7 linked regions of the Homo sapiens genome follow. The protein of the gene in region 6 purifies or fractionates together with the protein of the main gene of each other region. This does not show direct contact. Each region holds a gene or a part of one and is shown on either strand. Other genes may lie near its edges. The genes, in order: FAM114A2, PCDHGA9, PFKP, ENOPH1, AHCY, UBA6 and PPP1R12A.

The links.
Region 1: the proteins of UBA6 (region 6) and FAM114A2 fractionate together in Homo sapiens (co-fractionation; one large-scale study listed by BioGRID). This does not show direct contact.
Region 2: the proteins of UBA6 (region 6) and PCDHGA9 purify together in Homo sapiens (co-immunoprecipitation; one large-scale study listed by IntAct). This does not show direct contact.
Region 3: the proteins of UBA6 (region 6) and PFKP fractionate together in Homo sapiens (co-fractionation; one large-scale study listed by BioGRID). This does not show direct contact.
Region 4: the proteins of UBA6 (region 6) and ENOPH1 fractionate together in Homo sapiens (co-fractionation; one large-scale study listed by BioGRID). This does not show direct contact.
Region 5: the proteins of UBA6 (region 6) and AHCY fractionate together in Homo sapiens (co-fractionation; one large-scale study listed by BioGRID). This does not show direct contact.
Region 7: the proteins of UBA6 (region 6) and PPP1R12A fractionate together in Homo sapiens (co-fractionation; one large-scale study listed by BioGRID). This does not show direct contact.

What each region holds. Positions count from the first base shown.
Region 1 is NC_000005.10:154,000,911-154,004,410, forward strand, and holds part of FAM114A2 (protein FAM114A2), read right to left. Parts: intron 2,060-3,500; coding exon 1,937-2,059; intron 1,481-1,936; coding exon 1,341-1,480; intron 1-1,340.
Region 2 is NC_000005.10:141,503,778-141,507,277, reverse strand, and holds part of PCDHGA9 (protocadherin gamma-A9 isoform 1 precursor), read right to left. Parts: intron 1,886-3,500; coding exon 1,797-1,885; intron 1-1,796. Other genes in the region: PCDHGC5 (protocadherin gamma-C5 isoform 1 precursor), read right to left, coding at 1,797-1,885; PCDHGC4 (protocadherin gamma-C4 isoform 1 precursor), read right to left, coding at 1,797-1,885; PCDHGC3 (protocadherin gamma-C3 isoform 1 precursor), read right to left, coding at 1,797-1,885; PCDHGA12 (protocadherin gamma-A12 isoform 1 precursor), read right to left, coding at 1,797-1,885; PCDHGA11 (protocadherin gamma-A11 isoform 1 precursor), read right to left, coding at 1,797-1,885; PCDHGB7 (protocadherin gamma-B7 isoform 1 precursor), read right to left, coding at 1,797-1,885; PCDHGA10 (protocadherin gamma-A10 isoform 1 precursor), read right to left, coding at 1,797-1,885; PCDHGB6 (protocadherin gamma-B6 isoform 1 precursor), read right to left, coding at 1,797-1,885; PCDHGB5 (protocadherin gamma-B5 isoform 1 precursor), read right to left, coding at 1,797-1,885; PCDHGA8 (protocadherin gamma-A8 isoform 1 precursor), read right to left, coding at 1,797-1,885; and 11 more. UniProt on the Homo sapiens protein: Potential calcium-dependent cell-adhesion protein. May be involved in the establishment and maintenance of specific neuronal connections in the brain.
Region 3 is NC_000010.11:3,109,048-3,112,547, reverse strand, and holds part of PFKP (ATP-dependent 6-phosphofructokinase, platelet type), read right to left. Parts: intron 3,194-3,500; coding exon 3,068-3,193; intron 327-3,067; coding exon 262-326; intron 1-261. UniProt on the Homo sapiens protein: Catalyzes the phosphorylation of D-fructose 6-phosphate to fructose 1,6-bisphosphate by ATP, the first committing step of glycolysis.
Region 4 is NC_000004.12:82,433,590-82,437,089, reverse strand, and holds part of ENOPH1 (enolase-phosphatase E1), read right to left. Parts: intron 1-3,500. UniProt on the Homo sapiens protein: Bifunctional enzyme that catalyzes the enolization of 2,3-diketo-5-methylthiopentyl-1-phosphate (DK-MTP-1-P) into the intermediate 2-hydroxy-3-keto-5-methylthiopentenyl-1-phosphate (HK-MTPenyl-1-P), which is then dephosphorylated to form the acireductone 1,2-dihydroxy-3-keto-5-methylthiopentene (DHK-MTPene).
Region 5 is NC_000020.11:34,286,356-34,289,855, reverse strand, and holds part of AHCY (adenosylhomocysteinase), read left to right. Parts: intron 1-3,500. UniProt on the Homo sapiens protein: Catalyzes the hydrolysis of S-adenosyl-L-homocysteine to form adenosine and homocysteine. Binds copper ions.
Region 6 is NC_000004.12:67,631,656-67,635,155, reverse strand, and holds part of UBA6 (ubiquitin-like modifier-activating enzyme 6), read left to right. Parts: intron 1-637; coding exon 638-727; intron 728-833; coding exon 834-914; intron 915-1,682; coding exon 1,683-1,811; intron 1,812-3,247; coding exon 3,248-3,299; intron 3,300-3,384; coding exon 3,385-3,448; intron 3,449-3,500. UniProt on the Homo sapiens protein: Activates ubiquitin by first adenylating its C-terminal glycine residue with ATP, and thereafter linking this residue to the side chain of a cysteine residue in E1, yielding a ubiquitin-E1 thioester and free AMP.
Region 7 is NC_000012.12:79,809,598-79,813,097, forward strand, and holds part of PPP1R12A (protein phosphatase 1 regulatory subunit 12A), read right to left. Parts: intron 414-3,500; coding exon 198-413; intron 1-197. UniProt on the Homo sapiens protein: Key regulator of protein phosphatase 1C (PPP1C). Mediates binding to myosin. As part of the PPP1C complex, involved in dephosphorylation of PLK1. Capable of inhibiting HIF1AN-dependent suppression of HIF1A activity.

The sequences.
Region 1 (3,500 bases), on a different chromosome or scaffold from region 6:
TTAGTTATTAGTTACTGGGTGCTAATTTTATGCCAGGCACCATGCTAAGGGATTTACATGTATCATTTCTAATTTTTACAACAACTCCAAAAGTAAGTGATTAGTCCATCTTTAATAATAGTTACCTAAAGTCTTGTGTGTGCCAGATTTTATTTAAAGTCTTTCAAGCAATGGGAACATATCAGTGAACAAGAAAAGTCCCAGTTTTCATGGATTTCAACTTACTTGCTAAATTAAGGGGGAGACTATATACATATACATATATACACATACACACATATGTATACATATACACACATATATATTCATATACATGTAAGTCCTACTTGGTGATATAAGCTAAGACAATAAAGCAGAGTAAAAGGACAGAGAATGGTGGAAGTTGCTATTTTAGACTTTGTGGTGAAGGAAGGCTTTTCTAAAAAGGTGGCATTTGAGTAGACTTGAATTCAGAGAGGGAGTGAACCCCATTTCAAAGAACATTCCAAGTAGCAGAAATAGCCTCTTTTCCGCAGAACAGGCTCCTTTTAGGGTTGTGAGTCTCTCATCCTTAAGGAAGTTCAAGAAGACAAATTAGCCCCCTATTATGGGGTGCTGTAGTGGGATGGTGATGGTGCAAGTAAAGAGGAAGTCTGCAGAAGACTGACAGCCCCTCCCAGTTCTAATAATGGGCACTCTTATACATTTGTTTCCAATGAAAATTCTCATTATTTTAATCAGGACATTTGCTTAGAAACTACTGGGCTTTTTCTTCCCTACCTATGATTATCTATACTATTTTTGAAAAATTTTTGTACAAATCAGCAATAAAATGAGAAAAAAAGAATGGGTTCAGGACACTCAGTCAGACCTGGGGCTAAATCCCAGGCCATACAGCACAGACAGATTACTTAACTCCTCCAGTTTGCATTTCCTCATGATTAAAACTGGACTAATTACTTACTTTTGGAGGTATAAAAATTAGAAATTATACATGCAAATCCCTTAGCATGGCACTTGGAATGGTATAAAATTAGCACTCAATAATAACTATTATTAAGAACTGAGGTTCTTAGAACTCTTCTCTGTTTTCACTTATACCAAATTCCATTCCTATTAAAACTTATCTGTAAAGAAATAGTCTTCAGAGCATGAGTTGGTTAATAAAAAGGGCATATTTATAATATTGATTTATCATGGTTCAATGAAAAGAAAAAAACAACCAAAATGAACAAACCATCTAATATGTGGATGGGTGTGACGTGAATGGTTTCTTGAGAGAGACGTTTATAAAACTTTGGAAACAGGCCAAGAAAACTCCTGCAATTTGCATCATTTAGAGGAATTCTCATTACACTTACTGGGAAAGAGTTTGGCTCCTTTCTATGGCTGTCACTTCCTGCTTCCTGCCATGCAGAACCAATGCAGCTGTTTTGTGGAATAGTTCAATTGAGCAGGCAGTCAGTTCAGCCAGGCTCCGGATTGCAAACGCATGGATATCCTGGATGGAAAAACAAAACAAAGCATAGCAAAACAAAACATTTGGTGGAAAGATACCACCTTACTTCTCTCATACTACAGGATTTGTAGCAGAGACTAATAGTTGCCTTCCAATAAAGAGTGTCTTCTTCTTCCACAGTAGTGATATAATTTTACAGCTGGGCTCCCCTGAAGTCAGGTGTGACGAAGTAACTAAGTTTTGGCCAAATGATTTAGATAACAAGTGTCAGGCAGCAGTTTCTGGGAACCTTCCTCATGACAAAACACACGCGCATCCTTTCTCTCTTTTTTTCTTCACTCCTCCTTTAATCTTATAGTCTGGATCTAAGATGCTACAATCCTAGATCACAAGGTTGAAATTACGGACAGCAGTGTAAAAATAGGAGCCTGGGTCCCTGATTGTGACACATTTCAAATCTACTAAAACAAACAAAAAAGGCTTAGTTGCTTTGGCTACCTCTATTGAATTTTTGTTGACTTGCTCAGTATTTTCTGCTTCCGACTGTTTTTCTCCTTCTTCATTCTCTGCTAATGGCTTGGTCAGAGACTTCCTGATCCATTCGTGGGCGGTATTTCTTGCCTAAATAAGAAAAATATTGGCCATCAACAATTCAATTCAGTTTACCAAAATTACTGTGCACCTACCAGGAACACAATAGCATCCTAGAAGTAAGGGCTCCTGTTCTTACCTGAACGTACCATCTAGCTTTTCAGTCCTTATCCTACTAGTCTCAGCAATACTTATCACTGTGGTCCATCATTCCTTTTCAAAATTCTCTAATTGGTAGTATTTTTTTTTTTTTTTTGAGATGGAATTTCGCTCTTGTTGCCCAGGCTGGAGTGCAATGGCACAATCTTGGCTCACTGCAACCTCTGCCTCCTGGGTCCAAGCGATTCTCCTGCCTTAGCCTCCCGAGTAGCTGGGATTACAGGCGCCCACCACCACGCCCAGCTAATTTTTGTATTTTTAGTAGAGACGGGGTTTCGCCAGGTTGACCAAGCTGGTCTCGAACTCCTGACCTCAGGTGATCCCCCTGCCTCAGCCTCCCAAAGTGCTGGGATTACAGGCATGAGCCACTGCGCCCGGCCTCTAATCAGCTTTTTAAAAAACCAAGGTATAATTTACATAAAGTGCACAAATCTTCAGAGTATGGCTTAAGAAATGTTTTTATGTGTATATGCCTACGAAACCGTGATCAAGATATAGAATATTTCCTCATCCCTAGAAGGTCCCTTCATGTCCCTTCCTAGCCAATACTATTCAAACCATGTCCCCCTCCTCCTGCCCAAAGACAAACCCTCTTCTGCTCACTATAAATAATTTTTCCTAATCTTAAAATGCATAAAAATAGAAATATAAGTTCATTCTAATTTGTGTCTGGCTTAAGCACAACATAATGTCTGTTAGATTTATCCATGTTGCTGCATGTATTAGTTCATTCATATTAACTGCTGTGTAGTATTTCATTTTATATACAGTCATGCACCACATAATGATGTTTGGGTCAACAGCAGACCACATATATAATGGTGGTCCTGTAAGACTGTAATACCATATTTTTACTGTACCTTTTCTATACCATTGTGTTGCAACTGCCTACAGTATTCAGTACTGTAACATGCTGTACAGTTTTGTACAGGAGCAATAGGTTAAACGATATAGCCTAGGTGTGTAACAGGCTACATCAGCTAGGTTTGTGTAAGTACACTCTCTGATATTCGCCCAATGACAAAACTGCCTAATGATGCAGTTCTCATAACATATCCTCATCATTAAGCAATGCATGATTGTATATATCACAATTTATCCATTCTCCTGATAATGAATCTAGTTTTCTTTGGTTTTTGTAACCCCAACTTTCTTCTGTTCTCCTCTGACCTTTATGACCATTTCTCCTCAGTATCTTTTATATATTGATCCTAACTGGCCAGTCTCTTAAACGCCAATATTATTTGGAGGTCTAGCCTTCACTCTTTACTCGTCTCATCCTATTCCCTCTCCATCCATCCTATGCCAGTGG
Region 2 (3,500 bases), on a different chromosome or scaffold from region 6:
TATGCTGAAATAGTACTTGCTGTTTATCTGACATTCAACTGTAACTGGGCATCCTGTATTTTATCTGGCAACCCTGATCTGGAAGAATAAAGCAGAGCTCGAGGAAGAGGACAGCCTCTCATCCTGCTCAGGTAATAGAGAAGCCGAGGCTGGATCCAAAGGCAGCCATGGTCCCTATAGTAGAAAGAGCATAAACTTAGGAGTTGAGCCAGGTTAGAACCTCAGCTTGGCAGCTCAAAACTGAGGACCCTGGGGCAAGTGCCTTCTCGGTTCTCTCATCTGTCGAGTGTGAGAAATCAGACCTGCCTTGCAGAGCTATTGAGAGGATTCATTGACAGGAGGCCCCTAAAGTTTGTTTAGTATGTGCCCAGGTGTGATGACAGTGCTTCTTGTGATTTCACCTGGTTCTCTACCCACCAGTCCTCCAGACATGCTGGAGGGCAGGGCTATCAGTTCATGATATAGGGCAATGCCTTGATCCTCTGCCAGCCTCCTTATAAGCCCAGGATTTGCTGCTCCAGAAGCTAGTCTTTATTAATAGGCATTATTCTAATTCTGCTTTCTACCCAGTAAAAAACGGGTTTGGGTCAGCAAAGATAATAATATATTGTGCCCTTACTCTCTGCCAATCCTGTGCTGAGGGACTTGCATTTGGCCCTGGTAACACCACAATGAGATCCGTTAATACTGTGCCCATTAATAGTAAGTGAAACCGAGGGGGTTTAATAACTTACCTAAGGACTCATTGCTAAGTGGTGGTGCCAGGTGCCAGGATTTGAATCCAGATTGGCCTGCCTCTAAAGCCTGTGCTCTTTTTTTTTTTTTTTTTTTTTGAGACAGAGCGAGACTGTTGCCCAGGCTGGAGTGCAGTGGTGCGATTTTCTGCTCACCACAGCCACCTCCCAGGTTCAAGCGATTCTCCTGCCTCAGCCTCCCAAGTAGCTGGGACTACAGGCACGCACCACCATGCCCAGCTAATTTTTGTATTTTTAGTAGAGACAGGGTTTCACTATGTTGGCCAGGCCGGTTTCGAACTCCTGACCTCATGATCCTCCTGCCTCAGCTTCCCAAAGTGCTGGGATTACAGGCGTGAGCCACCACGCCCAGCTTAGGCTGTGCTCTTAAGGACAAATGATATTCTTCTTCTCCTGCTCTGGGCCCTAGTGACTCTTCAGGGACAACCACCACTAGCCGAATCTCTATTACAAAGGAAGCCCTTAGTCAACCTTATGGGAAAACCAGAATCCTACTCTGGAGTTAGGGGCAGCAAAAGAGGAGCCTCGCATAAAGAGGAGGTGTTCTCTCGGCTGGGGATTTCTACACCCACTTTCATTGCTTGAGGGCTTCCAAGCGCCAGGCCCAGAACTCTATGCTTTGTGGTATCATCTCATTTAATCTCTACAACAACCCTTTGGGGTCCCTGTCCCCACTTTCTAGGCTGAGGAAACTGAGGTTTAGAGAGATTGAGCAAGTCGATCCAAGTCCCAAGGATAGTAGCAGAGCTAGGACCTGAGCTACACTGTCCCATTCCAGAGCTAGACTTGTAACCACTATTCCCTCCATGAGTCTTTTCCTTGTTCGCTCTCCTCCAGGCATCCCAGGACCCCCAACCCCTCTGCTGTTCCTTAGCCACAATTCCAGGCTTTATGTTTGGAATTGTGGGTCCTTTCAGACCTGCCGAAAGATCTGGAGAAACTACACAGGTTTGACATCCAGTCCGTGGGCATGGTGGCTGTGAGATGCACCCCAGAACCCCAGGTCTCCCACTCTTCCATACACACACTGACACCACTTACCACTGGCGGACGCCAAGATCATGGCTTGCAGCATCTCTGTGTCAAACTGGTTGTTGGGCCAGGTGCCGGTGTCATCGCCATTTTGGGAGCTGGGGAGAGAGTAGGATGGTGAGCACAGACTCCCAGGCCGGCACAGCTCATGCCCCTCCTGTCCTCTCCCAGGGCTCCCAAACCTAGTACCCTAACCCTACCCCATGCCCAAGACCTGTTTCTCTCAGCAAGGTAGGAGGCACTTCTACAATCCTTCAGAAGCCAGAATCCCACAAGTCAGTCCCTCAAACCAGCTCTTTGCTGCCTCCGATGCTTTTTTCTTTTTGTTTTAGACAGGGTCTTACTCTGTCATCCAGGCTGGAGTGCAGTGGCGCGATCTTGGCTCATTGCAACATCCACCTCCTGGGTTCAAGCGATTCTCCTGCCTCAGTCTCCCAAGTAGCTGGGATGACAGGCACCTGCCACTGTGCCAGGCTAATTTTTGTATTTTTAGTACAGACGGGGTTTCACCATGTTGGCCAGGCTGGTCCAATGCATTGAACATAGTGCATTCCCCCACCCACCATGAGAGAGCCTGGCTTCCTGTCATAGTGAGGGAGATCAGACCTTCTCCAGAGGACTGTGAAGGTGGGAAATGGAAGAGAATGTTCCAGAGCTAGAGAAAAAGTGGGGACCTAGGAGGTACCTAGGGGGAGATGTAGGAGGCCCCAAGAGACCCTGGAGCAGGGAGAAGAAATTTCTAAAATTCAATGGCTTCCTAAGCCCTCAGAGTAAAATCCACGGCCATAGAAGAACCTGCCCCTCCTATTTTACAAGAACCCCCACCCCCCGCCCTCAAACACTCTATCATCAAACCTTTTCCAAGGTGCACTTTCCTATCCCTCAAGTTCCCTCTTGCTGTGAATCCTGGGCAGATGGTGTTCCCTAGAATGCCAGTCCCCCAACATTTGCCATGATGACACGAATAAAATATATCAGAGGAGATCCACTCAGACTGGGCAGGTGCCTCCACTGTACTCCCATCCCAGCGGCTGCCCCACATGGCACTAGTCACACTGCAGCTGTTGTAGTGCCTGTCTGTTCCTCCACCACACTGGCTTCTGTGAGGCAGCGACTCCACCTGCTTCCTACTGAAGCACCTAGCACAAAGCCTAGCACTTGGACCTAAGTGAGACTTTTAGAAACTCCGAGTGTTGAAAAAACATGAAATGATTCATAATTTAAAAAAATACTAAACCATAAGAAGAACTCTCTGCTTCTTAGAAGGTTCAGCTCTACTTGGAATTTTCCCACAGTGACAATTTTCATGATTTTTTTGAATTTCCAAGGATGAAATTATTTCAATTTGCAGGGGAGTGTTGGCGGGAAACAGCCCTGGCACACACACAGTCTGCCCTTTAGGTAACTGTTTGGCACCATCTGGCTCAGAGAAGTTTTTCAATAAATATTTGTTGCCTAAATGAGTGGGAAGAGACCAGCAGAGACAGTTAAGTGACTGTAAGGTAAGAAGAAGGGTTTGGCACCATGGGAAAGGCTGTAGGGTAGGCCTTGAAGGCATGAAAATGTCTGTGTGTGTGTTGCGTTGTGTGTGTGCATATTTTGTCATGGTGGGTGAGCACAACCAAGAACTGCTTTACAATTTTTCCAAGGTCTGTCCCTGCTTTTGGTTTTGCCCAATCTGGGATTCCCCGTCCCTAAGTAGATGAACTCAGC
Region 3 (3,500 bases), on a different chromosome or scaffold from region 6:
AAGTCACCTTGTGCCTTAATCTCATTAGCTCCTAAACAACCATCACCTTACCAAAAAGGACCAATGGCAAATTTAGAAAATGATTTCTCTCTAACCAGTCACCAGGGCCTGCTACTGCAAGAGCGGTGCTGTGAGTACTGCCTGACTTTCTGATTTTTCACAGTGACATGGAATAAGCACAACCCCTAAGCACGTTTGCAGTGGCTGGGCCTGAGGGGTGTGTGTTCCTGACAGGGCAGAGCTTTCTCCAAAGCACCTCACCTCCCTCGGAGTCGAACCGCATCTTGAAATCTCCTCTCGTCCATCGCCTTCTGCACATCCTGAGTCTTTTAAAACAATGATGAAAAGAAGAAAGAATGTGTCAGGACCTGGTGCATCATGGATGGGGTAGGTAGAGACTGGCTCGGTCCTTCCCACCAGCCCCCTCCAGTCTGACCCGGGCAGCCAGCAGCCCCAGGGTTAATGGTCTAGACGACCGGCCGCCAAGTGTGTCCTAATGCTGGTTGGCAGCCAGCCCCACACGGCCCGGCTGTGAGGTCAGAGCCCTGGGACTGCTTAGCTCAGGAGGCTTCTGAGGAAAAAGAGAAGGTGTCACCTGCTGTTTGTGGACACAACACTGTGAAGATTTAACTCCAAGAGAACAAAGCCAGAGGAAATGAAATCTCTCAGGCATGGTTCTAAGGAATTCTCAATTTGATTATGGTGGGGAAAAACAAAACAGAACACACCAGCTCACTGGGGGATGTGGGATGGGAGCGAGGTCACAGCGGGCGGGGGAGCAGAGGGGCCCGGATGGAGGCCCTGGGACACGGGGCTGGGACTGATGCACGCCAGGCAGCCCTGGGCAACGTCAGGATCTTGGTCAAGTTCTTTCTCGCTCTGAACTTCAATTTCCTCATCTGTAAGATGAGAAAAATACTCCTACTTCCAGCTATCTCTAAGGTTATTCAAGCATGTCAGACCCTCAGGAAGACGCCTGACAAACAGCAGGTGCACAGTAGTGGTCCCTCAGCTTTAAAAACAAAGCCACACAAGGGTGGTTTCAAGGTCAGGGCAAGTGACACCTACCACGGTCGTCTCTAGACAAGCAGAGACATGAGACACAGGCTCAAAATACACGTACCGCATGTCGTTCAGTGCTCTGAGCCTTTTAAGCCTACTGCCTCTCACATGCACACAGGCACACACTAACGTGCAGACACACACTACCTCACACTCCAACATACACACATATGCACATAAGCATACCTGCACACACAAACATGCAGACACACGCTACCTCACACTCATGCCAACATGCACACATCTGCATAGAAACATACCTGCACACACACACAAACATGCAGGCACATACTACCTCTCACAAACATACACACACATCCATATAAACACATGCACACACAGACATGCACACACTATCTCAAACATGCTCACACATGCATATAAGCATACATGCACACACATGCAGATGCATTACCTCACACACATATATACACATGCATATAAACATACATGCACACACTAACATGCAGAAACATACTACCTCACACTCAAATGTACACATGCATATACACACATGCACACACACTAACATGCACACACACTACCTCACAAAAACATGCACACACGTACAAACATGCATGCACACAAACATGCACACACATACATGCAGACATACTACCACAAACATGCATACTCATGCATATAAACATACACATACATGCAGACCCAAACTACCTCACAAACATGCACACACATGCATAAATATATGCATAAACCTGCATGTATATGCATATACAGAGATACACATGCACACACATATACATACATACACACAGAGACACAAGCCTGCGCACACACTCACACACATACACACAAATACTATTTTCTCCCTTGGGCTTTTGGAAATTATGTTTACAAGGTGACTTTCAACAAGTCCCTGACTTGATTGCTTCACGACTTCTTTGTGTGTGTTAAGAGGCAACAAAACAGGAGTCACGAATCATGAATGAACTCTGAAAAATAAAACAACAGCTGGGCGTGGTGGCTCATGCCTGTAATCCCAGCACTTTGGGAGGCCGAGGTGGATGGATCACAAGGTCAGGAGATCCAGACCATCCTGGCTAACACGGTGAAACCCCACCTCTACTAAAAATACAAAAAAAAAAAAAAAAAAAAAAAATTAGCCAGGCGTGGTGGTGGGCACCTGTAGTCCCAGCTACTCGGAAGGCTGAGGCAGGAGAATGGCGTGAACCCAGGAGGCGGAGCTTGCAGTGAGCCAAGATCACGCCACTGCACTCTAGCCTGGGCAACAGTGAGACTCCGTCTCTAAATAAATAAATTAATTAATTAAATAACTTCAAATGCAGCTAACTCCACAGCCACCTCCACTACTGAACCAATGCCTGAAAAGCTGGAACTGCTTTTCCCTTTGTTCATTTGCAGGCAGACAGTTCCCTGGCCCAAGAAGGGTGGGTGTATCTTCGGGTGACCAGAGCTTTCCCTGTGTCCCATCACAGACCTGAATGTCCTTGGGGATAGGAGGACAGGAAATGGCTGAAACTGGAGAAGTTTGGGAAGGTCCCACCTTCCCCTACAAAATACCACCCTGTAGATCTCTCTCACGCCCGCCTCCCTGCCTCCCTGCCCCCTCTGCCCCATGGGTCTCTCTCACGCCCGCCTCCCTGCAGTCTGTCCACGGATCTCTCTCTCTCGGCTGCCTCCCTGCACTCTGTCCTTCTGCAGCACCTGGTGCACTGGGGCCACCTGGATCCTCGACTGTTGAGGATCCCGATGCTCTAGACCCCCACTCAGGGGAGGTTACGACTATGTGCCACACAGATGGATGGTAACTTAGAAAACCAAAGAGCGAAGACGGCGCAGGCTCTGCAGGTGTGGGAGAGAACATAAGCCTTCTCCCTCCCCACGGGCAGCTCACCTCCTTCTCAGAAAGGCCGTGTAATGCATCGTGCACCGACGAGACACCCAAGGTGCCCAGGCTGGCCTGACAAGCAGCTTCTGTCCCAGCCGTCTCCGCCCTGCCCTTGGCCATGGGCTGCCCACTCACCATCTGCACGCACTCCATCAGCGGCAGGCGCACGGCGTGGTTCCCGTTCAGTGACACGACGCAAGCTGGGGTGTCCGGGGTGGCCTCTAGCAAGGCGATGACTGCCTCCACTCCCATGCGGCTGGCCTGGAAACCAGGTCCATGTGGGTCAGGGGCAGCCTCCCGTCCTGCCCTGTCCCTGTCACCTCCTATCTTTCCATGACGTCCAATGACCTCAGTCAGGTGCTCACAGCCCCTCCCGCTTCCAGCCCAACTCTTTAGAGCAAAGCGATTTCCACTCCTTTAGAACTGGCAAGACGGGAACAGAGAGGAGGTCAGGGCACATGGAGAGCAGGAGTGTTAAGAACTGAGGGTTTGTACTTGGGATTCCTGCTGCCCTGAGTCAGTTTCCAGAAACTCACTAGAAACACAGCCTTTCTGCCCTGGGATTGTG
Region 4 (3,500 bases), about 15 Mb from region 6:
TTTTTTTAAGACAGGGTCTTGCTATGTTGCCCAGGCTGGTCTGAAACTCCTAGCCTCAAGTGATCCTCCAACCTTTGCCTCCCAAAGTGTTCGGATTACAGGGGTGAGCCACCATGCCCATACTGAATTATTTACTTAATGCAGATTCTTTGGGTTCCAACAACGATAGGATGATGATGATGATGATGACGACGATGACATATTCTGTGTGAGAGCAGGATGAACATGACAGTCCCAGCTTTAGGGAACTAACAGGTGGCTGGGTGAGCAGATTGTCTAAGGCTCATGTGGTAGGCAGCCCAGGTCTCCTGAATCCTAGGTGAGGTCCCTCCCAGCTAGGTGGGACAGCTTCCTCCCAGAGGCCAGAGGTGCTTTCTATCCACCATTTTTTTTTTTTTTTTTTGAGACAGGGTCTTGCTTTGTCATCCAGGCTGGACTGCAGTGGCACGATCATGGCTTACTGCAGCCTTGACCTCCTGGGCTCAAATGATCCTTCTACCTCAGCCTCCTGAGTAGCTGGGATCACAGGCACATGCCACTACACCTGGCTAACTTTTTTTATTTTTAGTAGAGACGAGGTCATGCTACATTGCGCAGGCTGGTCTTGAACTCCTAGGTTCAAGCAATCCTCTCACCTTGGCCTTCCAAAGTGCTAGGATTACAAGTGTGAGCCACCAAGGCTAAGGCTAGCCTCCATCCACCTCTTGATATACGCAAGACAGTGATTCTCCAAAGACTCCTCACCTTGTTTCAAGCTGAGTCAACAAAAATCCTCTCACGTACTACCATGAATGTAGCTGGGAAACACTGCCCTAAGCAGTAGAAAAGTTTGGGGAGAGGGGGGCAGTTGTTTATCAACCCATCAACAACTACTTATCTGCCATTCCAGTGCTTCCACAAATTCTTAGAGATCAACAATATCCTGCGTCTTATTTTTAACATATTTCTGGGTAGGGCAATAAGGAGCAGAAGTCACTGGGAGTAACCATGGTAGACGTAACTGGGAGCATGGTGGGTTTCAGGAAATGTAAGATCCCTCTTTTCCTTATCAATCCTTCCTTCATAAGCACTTTCTATTTCCTCCAGTCTGACACTTCCTGCATTATAATCAGTGTTTCTATAGGACTTCGTAATTTTCAAAGGCTTTTGAATTCCATCTTATTTAACCTTCATCACCACCTTTATAAACAAAGCATATCCTAGTAGCCCATCCCTGCGGATGAAAAAGCCTAAATCCGTAGACTGAATGAAGATAGGGAAAGAGACCCTATTACAGTTACTGGTGTCAATAATAAATAGCACAGGTAGAAGAATGCTTCCAGTGTGCCATTCCTTGTAGGCTGTCTTCTAGCTGTTTCATTGTGCAGGCAGAGTGCGCATCCTACACTTCTCAATGCTGGCAATAATAGAAGTAATACTACTTATCAAATGGATGTTTAACCAAAGTTGGGAGATAACTATCAGACTTTAAAGCTCTCTTCCTAAAAAGACCATAATTTAATATAGCAGTTTTCATAAGAAAGATGTTAACTGCAACACTCCCCAATTATTATCTTCTAAAATACATTATAAGAGGACATAAAGAGGACTGTTAAATAATCAAGAATGAATTCACTATTTCTAAAAATGCTTTACCAGCCTGGACAACCCAGTGAGACCCCATCTCTGCAAAAAATTTTAAAAATTAGCTGGACATGGTGGCACATGCCTATAATCCCAGCACTCTGGGAAGCCGTGATGGGAGGACTGTTTGAGTCCAGGAGTTTGAGAACAGCCTGGGCAACACTGTGAAACCCCATCTTTATAAAAAATAAAAATAAGCTAGCTAGGCATGGTGGTGCACACTCGTGGTCCCAGCTACTCAGGAGACTGAGGTAGGAGGATTGCTTAAGCCTGAGAGGTCGAGGTTGCGGTGAGCTGTGATCGTGCCACTGTACTCCAGCCTGGGTGACACAGCCTGACCCTGCTTCAGAAAAACAAAGACAAAAAAGAACAAACACCAGAGGTATGTGTCCTGCGGTAAAGTGCAGGGATGGTGGCGGTGGATTTAGATGCGGTGGGAACATCTAAGGAAAACTGGGCTCTGCTGCAGCTCTACTCCCAACAAATTTTGATGATCCTCAGGCAAGACACAAAGACATGCTATAAACTGAAATTTGTTACCATATACTTTTTTTTTTTTTTAAAGACAGTCTCGCTCTGTCACTCAGGTTGGAGTGCACTGGCACGATCTCGGCTCACTGCAACCTCCGCCTCCCAGGTACAAGCGATTCTCCCACCTCAGCCTCCCCAGTAGCTGGGATTACAGGTGTGCGCCACCATGCCCAGCTAATTTTTGAATTATTTATTCCTTTTTTTCTTTTCTTTTCTTTTTTTGAGACAGCGTCTTCCTCTGTTGCCCAGGCTGGAAGGCAGTGGTACAATCTCGGCTCACTGCAACCTCCACCTCCTGGGTTCAAGTGATTCTTCTGCCTCAGCTTCCTGAGTAGCTGGGATTACAGGTGCCCACCACCATGCCCGGCTAATTTTTGTATTTTTAGTAGAGACGGGGTTTCACCATGTTGACCAGGCTGGTCTCAAACTCCTGACCTCAGGTGATCCACCTGTCTCGGCCTCCCAAAGTGCTGGGATTATGAGCCACCATGCCTGGCCTACTTTTTGTATTTTTAGTAGAGACTGGCTTTCACCATGTTGGCCAGGCTGGCCTCGAACTCCTGACCTCAAGAGATCCACCTGCTTCGGCGTCCCAAAGTGCTGGGATTACATGCCTGAGCCACCGTACCTGGCTTGTTACCATATACTTTTATAGCACAGTACTTCACATTGATTAAAGAACTCTCATACTAACTGTGTCATTTAACATACACAACCACCAAGCAAAGGAGACAGGACAAACAGTAGCATCCCATTTCCAAGGCTGAGTGCAGTAATGGAAAAAATAAGAGTTTTTATGAATAAGACAATCTGAGTTCAAATCCCAGGCATCTTGTTCAACTTTTCAGAGGCTTTGTTTCATCCTAAGTAAAGTGTAGACAGTACATACACCTCATGGTCTTTTAGAATGAGTCAAGGATTGAGTACTGCACGTATACAGTACTCAATGTTTCCTTCCATCATTCCACAGAAGGAAGGGCTACAAGTTCACACACCTACTCTGACTTTAAAGCTCCAAGCAGATTATCTTTCAACTCCCATGCTCAACCTTTCCGTGCTCAGATTCAAGAATGTAACTCAGCATCTCTTTAAAAGGTGTTTAAAAGATTAGTCACTGAGATACTCTACTAAAAGTTTTTTGTTCAAGTAGATTTGTGAAATGTCACTCTCTTGAAATCTCACAAAGTGTGTATGTGTGTATATATATGTATGATACCGAAGGTTCTGAGAAGTCTTGCAATAAAGAAATCTATTTGAACTCATTCTAACTAGCATTTCCCAAAAGTGCATTTAATGGAATCCTTTTTTACATAATTACCATAAACATCCACACAGACCTAACTTTC
Region 5 (3,500 bases), on a different chromosome or scaffold from region 6:
TGAGGCCAGGAGTTCGAGACTAGCCTGGCCAACATGGTTGAAACCCCGTCTCTACTAAAAATACAAAAAAATTAGCTGGGCCGGGTGCGGTAGCTCATGCCTGTAATCCCAGCACTTTGGGAGGTCGAGGCGGGCGGATCACATGAGGTCAGGGGTTCGAGACCAGCCTGACCAATATGATGAAACCCCATCTCTACTAAAAATAGAAAAATTAGCCGGGTGTGGTGGCGGGCACCTGTAATCCCAGCTATTTGGGAGGCTGAGGCAGGAGAGAATTGCTTGAAGCTGGGAGGCGGAGGTTGCAGTGAGCCGAGATCGCACCCTCGCACTCCTGCCTGGTTAATAAGAGTGAGACTCCATCTCAAAAAAAAAAAAAAAAAAAAGGCCAGGTACAGTGGCTCATGCCTGTAATCCCAGCACTTTGGGAGGCCTAGGTGGGCAGATCACGAGGTCAGGAGTTTGAGACCAGTCTGGCCAACATAGTGAAACCCCGTCTCTACTAAAAATACAAGAAGTTAGCCGGGTGTGGTGATGTGCACCTGCAATCCCAGCTACTTGGGAGGCTGAGGCAGGAGAATCACATGAACCCGGGAGATGGAGGTTGTAGTGAGCCGAGATTGTTCCACTGCACTCCAGCCTGGGTGACAGTGCGAGACTCTGTCTCAAAAACAAACAAACAAAAAAATCAGCTGGGCATGGTGGTGGGTGCCTGTAATCCCAGCTACTCGGGAGGCTGAGGCATGAGAATCGCTTAAACGTGGTAGGCAGAGGTTGCAGTGAGCCGAGATTGCGCCATTGCACTCCAGCCTGGGCAACAGAGCGAGACTCCATCTCAAAAACAAAACTAAAAACAAAAAACAAAAAGGGACACAGCTTGAATCACTGTGTGAGGAGCAGGCCCATGCACTGAGCTGGGAAAGAACAGGTTTGCATTGGGCATTGGGGCACTGAAACTGGAAGATGAGTTCTTATAGGGGGTGTGAAGTTTTACTTGAGTTGCAATTATTATGAGTTTATTTTTTTCTCTGATTATAAAAGTAGTATGTTTCTGGAAGACATTTTGGCTTTGGATATCAAGAGCTTTAAAGTTAAGCAACCTCTTTGACTGGGCAATCTCTCCTATAATTGGTCCTTAGGATAATTAAATATGTATGTAGAGATGTTCATCATTTTTTTTTTCTTTTTTTGAGATGGGCTCACTCTGTTACCCAAGCTAGAGGGCAGTGGCATGATCATGGCACACTGCAGCCTTGACCTCCTGGGCTGAAGGAGCTGATCCTCCTGCCTCAGCCTTCCAAGTACCTGGGACTACAGATGTGCACTACTACACCTGGCTAACTTTTTATTTTTTGTAGAGACGAGGCCTTGCTGTGTTCCCCAGGCTGGTCTCAAACTCCTGAGCTTAAGTTATCTCCCAAAGTGCTGGGATTATAGGCGTGAGCTGCCACACCAGGTCCACCACATTTTTTAAAGGGAGAAAAGCCCACCTATGTGAGGTTCTTTGAGTTGGTGCTGTGCCGTGTTTGAGATATGATAAGGAAGATACAGACACAGAGTTGGCCAAAGCCCTGACACCCACCCAGTCACAGCCACACCAGAAGCCCAAGTCCCAGAGAGGCAGACAGGCAGCTCTATGAACCCACATCCCCTACACTGCTCCTCTTGGGTGCTCTGCTCCTGCGTGGGAGTTCTCCTTGGCTAGGTCCTGCACTAGTCTAGGGTGTCAGTTCCCGGCTAGGCAGAGGGCACCTCCATCTCTGCCTAGAAGGCCTGGCACTCATCACAGTGTGGGGGTGGCCAGGGCGTGCTTCTGTGGCAGCCACACCCCTGACAGCCATCTGTCTAGACCTCCTTTTTGCAAAGGCATCACAGGTGAAACCTGCTACATTGGGGTGATGGGCACCTTTCTGCCAAGCTGCCCTCCAAAGCTGGACTCTATGCCCACCCTCAACATCCTTGACAGTCTTGCCAACCTTCTGCCCAACATTATCTCTTGTCCGTCCTCTCAAGGGCCTCTGTACTCAGGCCATAATTGACCACTCCCTGAATACCCACTGCAGCTCCTACTTCTGCTCATCTGTCCAGACAGCTGCATTTGTCTGGAACAGAACACATGCCCTTCTCCTTGTTCATCTTCTCAGCCCAGCTCAAGAGACCCCCTTCTGGCCAGGCACGGTGGCACACACCTGTAATTCCAGCACTTTGGGAGGCCGAGGCAGGCGGATCACTTGAGGTCAGGAGTTTGAGACCAGCCTGGCCAACATGGTCAAACCCTGTCTCTACTAAAAATACAAAAAATTAGCTGGGCATGGTGGCTCATGCGTATAGTCCCAGCTACTCTGGAGGCTGAGGCAGGAGAATCGCTTGAACCCAGGAGGTGGAGGTTGCAGTGAGCTGAGATCACACCACTGTACTCCAGCCTGGATGACAGAGTAAGACTCCGTCTCAGAAAAAAAAAAAAAAAAAAAATTAATAAAATAAAAAAGAGACCCCCTTCCTGGCCAGCTCCTCTGGCAGAGGCAATGCCCACACTCTTAGTACAGACCCCTAGTGCAGCATCCATCACTGGCTTTGGTCTCTGACCCCACTGTTGTACCAGGAGGGTAGAGTCCAGGTTGACGTGTCCCTGCAAGGGGCTTAGATGGGTATCAGTGAGTGCTTATTGATTGAAGCATCAATCAATGCCTGATGGGCATCAGAGACCTTTCCTTGGATCGGTACTAGGCCTCTGGAGCAGCTTGGAAACCTGGGCTTTTGGGGAAATGTTTGGGAGGCTGCCTGAGGGTGGAGGGATGGCAAGGGAAGAGCTGGGAGTGGGGAGAAAGCAAGTTTGTGTGTTCAGACAGCTGGGACAGACGGAGGACTGGGGCACTGAGGCTGGGGATTTCCATGTCACGTTCACTCACTAAACCGGGAGTTCTCAACCTTGGCAGTCACCTGGGAGCCACACTGTGGGCCACAGGAATAGGAGTCTCTGGGAATGAGGCCAAGGTATCTTTTTTTTTTTTTTTTTTTTTTTTTGAGACGGAGTTTCGCTCTTGTTGCCCAGGCTGGAGTGCAATGGCGCGATCTTGGCTCACCACAACCTCCGCTTCCCAGGTTCAAGCGATTCGCCTGGCTCAGCCTTCCTGAGTAGCTGGGATTACAGGCATGTGCTACCATGCCTGGCTAATTTTGTGTTTTTAGTAGAGACAGGGTTTCTCCATGTTGTTCAGGCTGGTCCCGAACTCCCGACCTCAGGTGATTCCCCCCGCCTTGGCCTCCCAAAGTGCTGGGATTACAGGCATGAGCCACCGCGTCTGGCCTGGGTATCCTCATTTTTTAAAGCTTCTGAGGTGATTCCAATGTGAGCGCCACGGCATTCAGCTTTTGCTAAGCTGCATTCAAAACTATTTCATGGTTATTGAGAACATGGGATCTGTCCTCAGACCGTCCAGACTCAAATTGCAGCCTCCTCTTAGTGTGTGGCTCTGGACAAGTGACCTAACCCTTGTAAACTT
Region 6 (3,500 bases):
GACTAGAACTGTCAACAAAGACATAAAATTTTATTCACTTGCTGAGACAAAGTGAGTCATTTTAGATTAGGTAAACCAATAAACCTAGGCAAAATGTACTCTATAATAGAATGTGGATTTCTTCAATGGTACTTTATCCACAAAAAACGACTTAGGTATTTACCATTTATTTAATACATGCTTTCTGCAAGAAACCTCAAGCATTGAGGACATATTTCTGCTCCCAGATGTTTTTCTCCATGGAAAAACTCATGCTTTTCTGAGCACTATACTGGGTATTCCTGAATTACTTTTCAAAGCGGGGCAGTGTTATAAAACTTTAAATGTCACCTTGATTCATGAGGAAAAAAATGATTTATAGATGATGGTGTGTCATGAGTACTACATGGTGCTTTAAATGAGTACACAAATAATAAATAAGATTCATGTTTGGCATTACATAGCTATTAACAAATAGGTTAAATGTCAAAAGAATTAACTTCTCTTATTGCCTAAGAGAGAGAAGATATAAAAATGTCTGGTTGGATTTTATTTATTTTTGGATTTTTAATAGGCTTAAAGCTCAAAACTAGATTAAATCAATAAAAATTGGTCATTGCTTCCCCTTAAGTACCTGTTGTCATATTTTATAAATTAGCGGGATCCCCCAGAAGAGGAAATACCATTTTGTACTCTAAAATCCTTTCCAGCTGCTATTGAACATACCATACAGTGGGCAAGAGATAAGGTAAAAGTTCCTTTTTAAATTTATTTTCTTTGAAGTGAGAAAGAAGATATTTCTGACTTTAAACAGACTTCTATTTGTAATTTTTTTTTTCTTTTCTCTGTTACAGTTTGAAAGTTCCTTTTCCCACAAACCTTCATTGTTTAACAAATTTTGGCAAACCTATTCATCTGCAGAAGAAGTCTTACAGGTAAAAATCAGTAAATTTTAATACAAACTTAACACTTTGTGTCAGTGTAATCTTATTTTCAAGTCATCTACAAGTGATTTATTTTACCTCCATAAAGAGTGATTGTATATAAAAAATGAAATGATACATAAGGAATCTTGAAATTAGGTCACAAATTATCATTTTGGTTGTTTGAACTACATGGAATTGTCGATATTTGAGCATGTTCGACTCACAAAACAGCAATTCGTATGGTGCGAGCTAATAAAGATATGATAATTATGATAGAAGGGCTACAAATAATAAAAGGGCTTTTATTAAGCCCTTTGGAAAGAAAAAATTGAGGTAAGTTCTAGTTAAAATTTCATGAGGGAACAATAATCTCCAAGACTTATTACTCTTATAGTGAAGGCAACTTTAAAGATGTTTTCTCACTTTCTTTTAATCTTTTGCTAACAAGGCCCACTTTTTAGTATCAAATATTCATAGCACTTATAGTGAGTACATATATTATAGTACTAATAACTTACAGCTAGGAAAATATGAGGATAACTTGTAAGATAAGAAATCAGAGTTAAAATTTTGTATGCTATCTCTTACCATTCCCCTTCTCAAACAGAAAAGAAAAGAAAGGTTAAAGAAGAAGGAAGGGAAAAGGAGCTTGAGGTGAAAAAAGAAAAGCATAAAACACATGAGTTGACACTTCAAACTTAGGCTAACTTTTGGTGAGGGATGTGTATATGTTTGTAATTGGAAGTATGTTGATTTTTTTTTTCTCTCCCATTCTAGAAGATACAGAGTGGACACAGTTTAGAAGGCTGTTTTCAAGTTATAAAGTTACTTAGCAGAAGACCTAGAAATTGGTCCCAGTGTGTAGAATTAGCAAGATTAAAGTTTGAAAAATATTTTAACCATAAGGTAAGTATGCATTGTGAGACATTAAGAAAAGGTCTGATCTTGGCTTATTTAGTTATTAACAAATTAATTTCATTGACCTGAAATGTGTATTCTTTCTTTTGGCAAGCTTTTCAGAAATTAGTAGTAAGTTAAATGAGAACACATGCTAATCTAAAAGAAGTTTGTTCAGAATAGAAGAAGCAAGAAACTGAGAAAATAGGGACATTTAGTCAGAAATTTTGCTGAGATTTTGCCATTTCCACCCATATCTGATAATCACATTTTATGTCTGTTTCCCCATCTGTAAAATAGAAATAATAAATTTGTACCTAATACATAAGGTAGTGGTAAAGATAAAAGGAGGTAACACAAAGCATTTAGAACAGAGCCTGGCACATAAAAAATTACTAAATATTAGCTGTTATTCTTACCTCCAGTTAAATATAGTTGCTGGAATGTGTGTTGCCTTCTCTTTAGTCTTTCCCTCTCTTTAGGATCTTAAGTTCATCTTCCTTAGAAACAACTTTAAAAAAAAACAAAAAAACAGGGTTTCCCTATGTTTTCCAGTCTGGCCTGGAACTCCTGGGCTCAAGTGATCCCTGCCTCAGCCCTTAAGTAGCTGAGGCTGCATGTGCACGCCACCACACCCCACTTAAAAAATATTTCGTTTATACTTCTTCTTTTTACTTTCAACAGAGCTCTACTTCTTGGAAAAGTGGTCTGTACTACTCAATGTTACCACTTCTTTACCCAGTAAATTTGACTTCTTTGCTCATTACTCTTCAGATTGTTCTTAACATGGTTATCAATGACCCGTTTCAAAAATCTAAGGAACTCTTTAGTTCTTATCTTCTGTGCATTTTTTTTAAACTTTTTTTATAATGAAAAATATTCAGCCATAGAAATGTAGAGGAAATAGTATAATGAACCCTAATGTAATTGTCAATTACCTATCACCCAGGGTTAGCAGTTATCAATTCATAGATAAATCTTGTTTCATCACCATTCCCGTTCATTCTTACCTTCCCCCAGGTGATTTTGAAGCAAATCTCAAACATGTATCAATTTCAAAAATACAAAGTACTGTGTGTTTTTTCTGGTTTTGTTATTTAAGTACTAGCTCTTTAAAAAGAACAGAATGACATGTAAAATATGCCATTTATATAAAAAGGAGTGAAGTAATCTACATTTGTTTGCTGTAGATACCACCTCCCAATAAACCTACAAATAGTGATAGAAAATGATATTTGAATTTTTCATTTATGAGGGACATTGACAGGAGAATGGACAGATGGAATACAAGGGTGGTAGGGAGACTTCACTGTGTCTCTTTTAATGTGTTTTGATTTTTGAATCATGTGCATATATTTACTACACACATTTTTTAATTTTATTTTTTAATTTTTCCTCAGATAATATTAAGTAGTGGGTGTCTTTAATTCATTTTTTTTCTTTAGGCTCTTCAGCTTCTTCACTGTTTCCCTCTGGACATACGATTAAAAGATGGCAGTAAGTATAAATGTTGAGAATAAATTTTAATGACATTTATTACTGGCTACATACATTGAAAATGATATTTGTATCTTTTTGCCAGGTTTATTTTGGCAGTCACCAAAGAGGCCACCCTCTCCAATAAAATTTGATTTAAATGAGCCTTTGTAAGTATTTATATTTAGTTTTATGTATCCTTCATTATATATTTCTTTACTG
Region 7 (3,500 bases), on a different chromosome or scaffold from region 6:
ATGTTTTAGGCAAATACATCTGATCTTTCCAGTATTTATAATTCTGTATAAATTACATTTGTCTTATGTAATTCATTAAGGTTAATTAACTTGATACCTAGATCTAAAGATAACTAGCAGAAAATCTACCAGATTTGATGTTCCTGGAAAAGAAATCATAACAGTTTTCATAGAAACCAGACTGTGAAATAGATTACCTTTTCTTTATTATCCAAAGAGGAGGAAAGTCTGGGACTTGAAGCTGAACGTGTAACACCTGCAGTATCTTTTTCTTTCTGACCCTCTTTAGATGCTGTGATTTCAGCAAGTGCACCATAGCTGCCCGTCTTTCTAAGTCCTAACCTCCAAGTTGCAGGAGACTCATCTTTTCTCTCTTCTTCTTTGGGAGAAATTTTTGTAGCTGTGGTTGGAAACTGTGTTTATTTTATTTTTTAGGAAAAGAAAAAAGAATTTGTAAAGCTGATCAGTCCTTAAATTGGAAACAATAAGTTTACAGATAATATATTTAAAATTATGGTTTACAGTTTCAGGATAAAACACTTTTACTACATAGGTTAATGTCTTAGTAAAAAATGTAAAGATCTAAAAATTTTAAAGAAATAGACTACCTTCCTAGGGGTTAGACTTAAGAAAACACACTACACACTTTATATCACACAGAAAAATTATGATGCAAATACAGAAAACAGAAATGAGCACACCATAAGGACTTAAAACCATGCATCTTTGGAACCAATTTATATTAAACTTGTTATGTTGTAACCTAATATAAATTCTTGCACATAGAAATGCCTCACCATAGATTTTTCACCCTTACTGGGCACAAGAACAATGCCAGTTTTGCGCAAGCCCTGCCTCCATGATGCAGGATCTACTGATTCCACCACAGGCATGATAGGAGCAATGAAATCATACTAAAGCCAATTAAAATAAGACAGGTAAAGAGACAAAGATTGAAAGCATGAAAACAGAAAAGGGAAGTTATGAACAAAAAATATTTTCTTCATTTGAAAATAATTTTATAATTAACCCCAATAATTGGGTAATGATCCAATCTTTAAAAGTCACTGGGAACAAGTTCTAATTTTAGCATGAGATAATCTGAAAAAAATCTAATAAACTTCTAAAGCAATTAAAAGGCATACAGAGTAGATAATATAGCATGTGACTGAACAAACTACTGCACATGAATTTTGTTTTTAATCCATGTATATACTCTGGTTAAAAAATTTTGTGTCCAATATAATCAACAAAAACTAGTAACTGATATTTTTCCAATTATAATACTTTTTTTTTTAACATCACAGCCTTAAATTTACTGATTTCCCCACCAAACATTAACTATTTCAACTATAATAAAAACTAATTTTATGTACAAATATTTATGCTATTTTAAGGGCTTTCCAACAACCCTAAAAATGCAACCTCTGTTATCTTTAGATCACTTCATCAACTTCACTTCTAGAAATTCTATACTCAACCACAGTTAACTATATAGATTGGTGAATACAGCAACTAACTAGTTGCCACAAGCATAGGGTATTAATAATTTTTTAAAAATCATTTCTTTCATATCTATTGCCAACATTTGCTATAATTAGCAGGTTAACAGGGCTTGTTAAAGCCCCCATGATGATGCTTGAGGGCCACTTCATGGACAAAACTGTTATAAAGATATACCTCTGGTACTTCCAGTAATGAATTGCTATCAATAGTGTCTAAGCATTCCTCAGTTCCTAAAATGTGCACCAAAGTGCTCCAGAGTGTCACAACAAAATCACGGGGGCTCTGTAGAATATTTTAAAGTTTTGAGAGAAGCACAGTGACATCTCATAGACACTGCACAAACTGCCATTTTGATCACATTTCCATCAAACTACTTAATGAGACAAACAGGCAATTCCTTTTGCCAGTGGCACTGTGAAAAAATCCTACCAAACACTAGGGGCTCCAATGACCAAGAAAGTTTGCGAACTCTAATATTCTGTGCAATATGATAGGTACTGAGACAGCTGCTTATTGATTGGTGAGTTTACAGGGCTACACTGTAAATGCTAGGCTTTGTGGAACACAGATAATATTAATACACAAATGATTGAGTGTGGCTGTAACCAATAAAACTTTAGGGACAATGACTTTTTTTTATTTTTTTTCTCCAACCAGTTTGCTATACAAAAACAGGTAATGGGCTAGGTTTGGCCCACCAGCCATAGTTTGCCAACACCCACATTAGGTCTCCCACCTCCTCAAAAAACAGAAACAAAAAAACAAACAAAAAACCTGGAAACAAACGTTTTTTCCCCCATTATAAAACAGCCAGAGTCAGTCAGTCAGATAACATTTATTGTTATAAATGAAGCTAACATTTATTGTTATAAATGAAGCTAACATTTAACAAATATTTACTAGTGTGTGACCCTCAGCTAAGTGCTTCACATGGGTTATCCTGTTTCAACCTTATAATTACCCAATGAAATACTACTATTACTGTTATTTTAGAGTTGAGAAAAACGAGGCAGTACTATCTATCAATTTTGAAATGGGCATTTGTTACACTGTAATGGCTGATATACCTCCACTCTGCCCAACATGAACTTGGATTTAAGTACTGCTTTATATGTCTAAAAGCACCTTTTAATTTTACTTGATATATAAATAAACCCTTCCTGAAATACTTAACTATACCTCCTCCTCCATTAAACTCTCTTCTTTGGCTTTTTTTACTGGACACTATCTTCACCTTCTTTTTCTTTTTACTCTGACCATTCCTTTTCTTGACTGACTCTGTGTGTGCGTGTGTGTGTGTGTGTGTGTGTGTGTGTGTAACGTTCCTTATACAGGCTGTGTGTGTTTGTGTGTGTGTGTGTGTACAACTTTCCTTGTGCTAGCCCTTCCAGAGCCTGCTCTTGGATCTCTCATATTCTCTTTCTACTTTCTTCTCCTGGGGGGTTAGGAGGAGGGTCTTTACTTCCTCAGGCTAAATATTAATTGTAGTCAGCTTATTCTCAAATGTGTTATTCTCCAGTCCAGTCTCCTAAATTTCCAGTCCTAATTTTACCTGTCTATTCTAGGTAAAATTCTACCACACTATTCTAGAGTGGACAATCTAGAACTATAACTGAAAACTTGAAACTCAGTATGTCTAAAATAAAACACCTTTACTTCCAAACCATCTCTTCTTCAGTTCCCTAATTCTGTTAATGGCACTAAGTATATCTCTTCAATCTCCTATGTTTCAAACTTCACAATTATGTTAGACCTTCTCTGTCATTTTCCTCCATCCATAAATTAGAGGTCAAGTCTCTAAATCTCCTCTCCTTTATAAGCCCAGAGTCACTTCTCTAGTTCATATTCTTATCATTGTGGGCAACTTCAATGACTTTCTAATAAACCTTTTCTCAATAAGCCTCTCATCTTCAAATCTGTACACTGCTGTCAGAATAATATTCTATAAAGAATAATCCTCTCATGGCATTGTTCAAACATCTTCCACGACTACT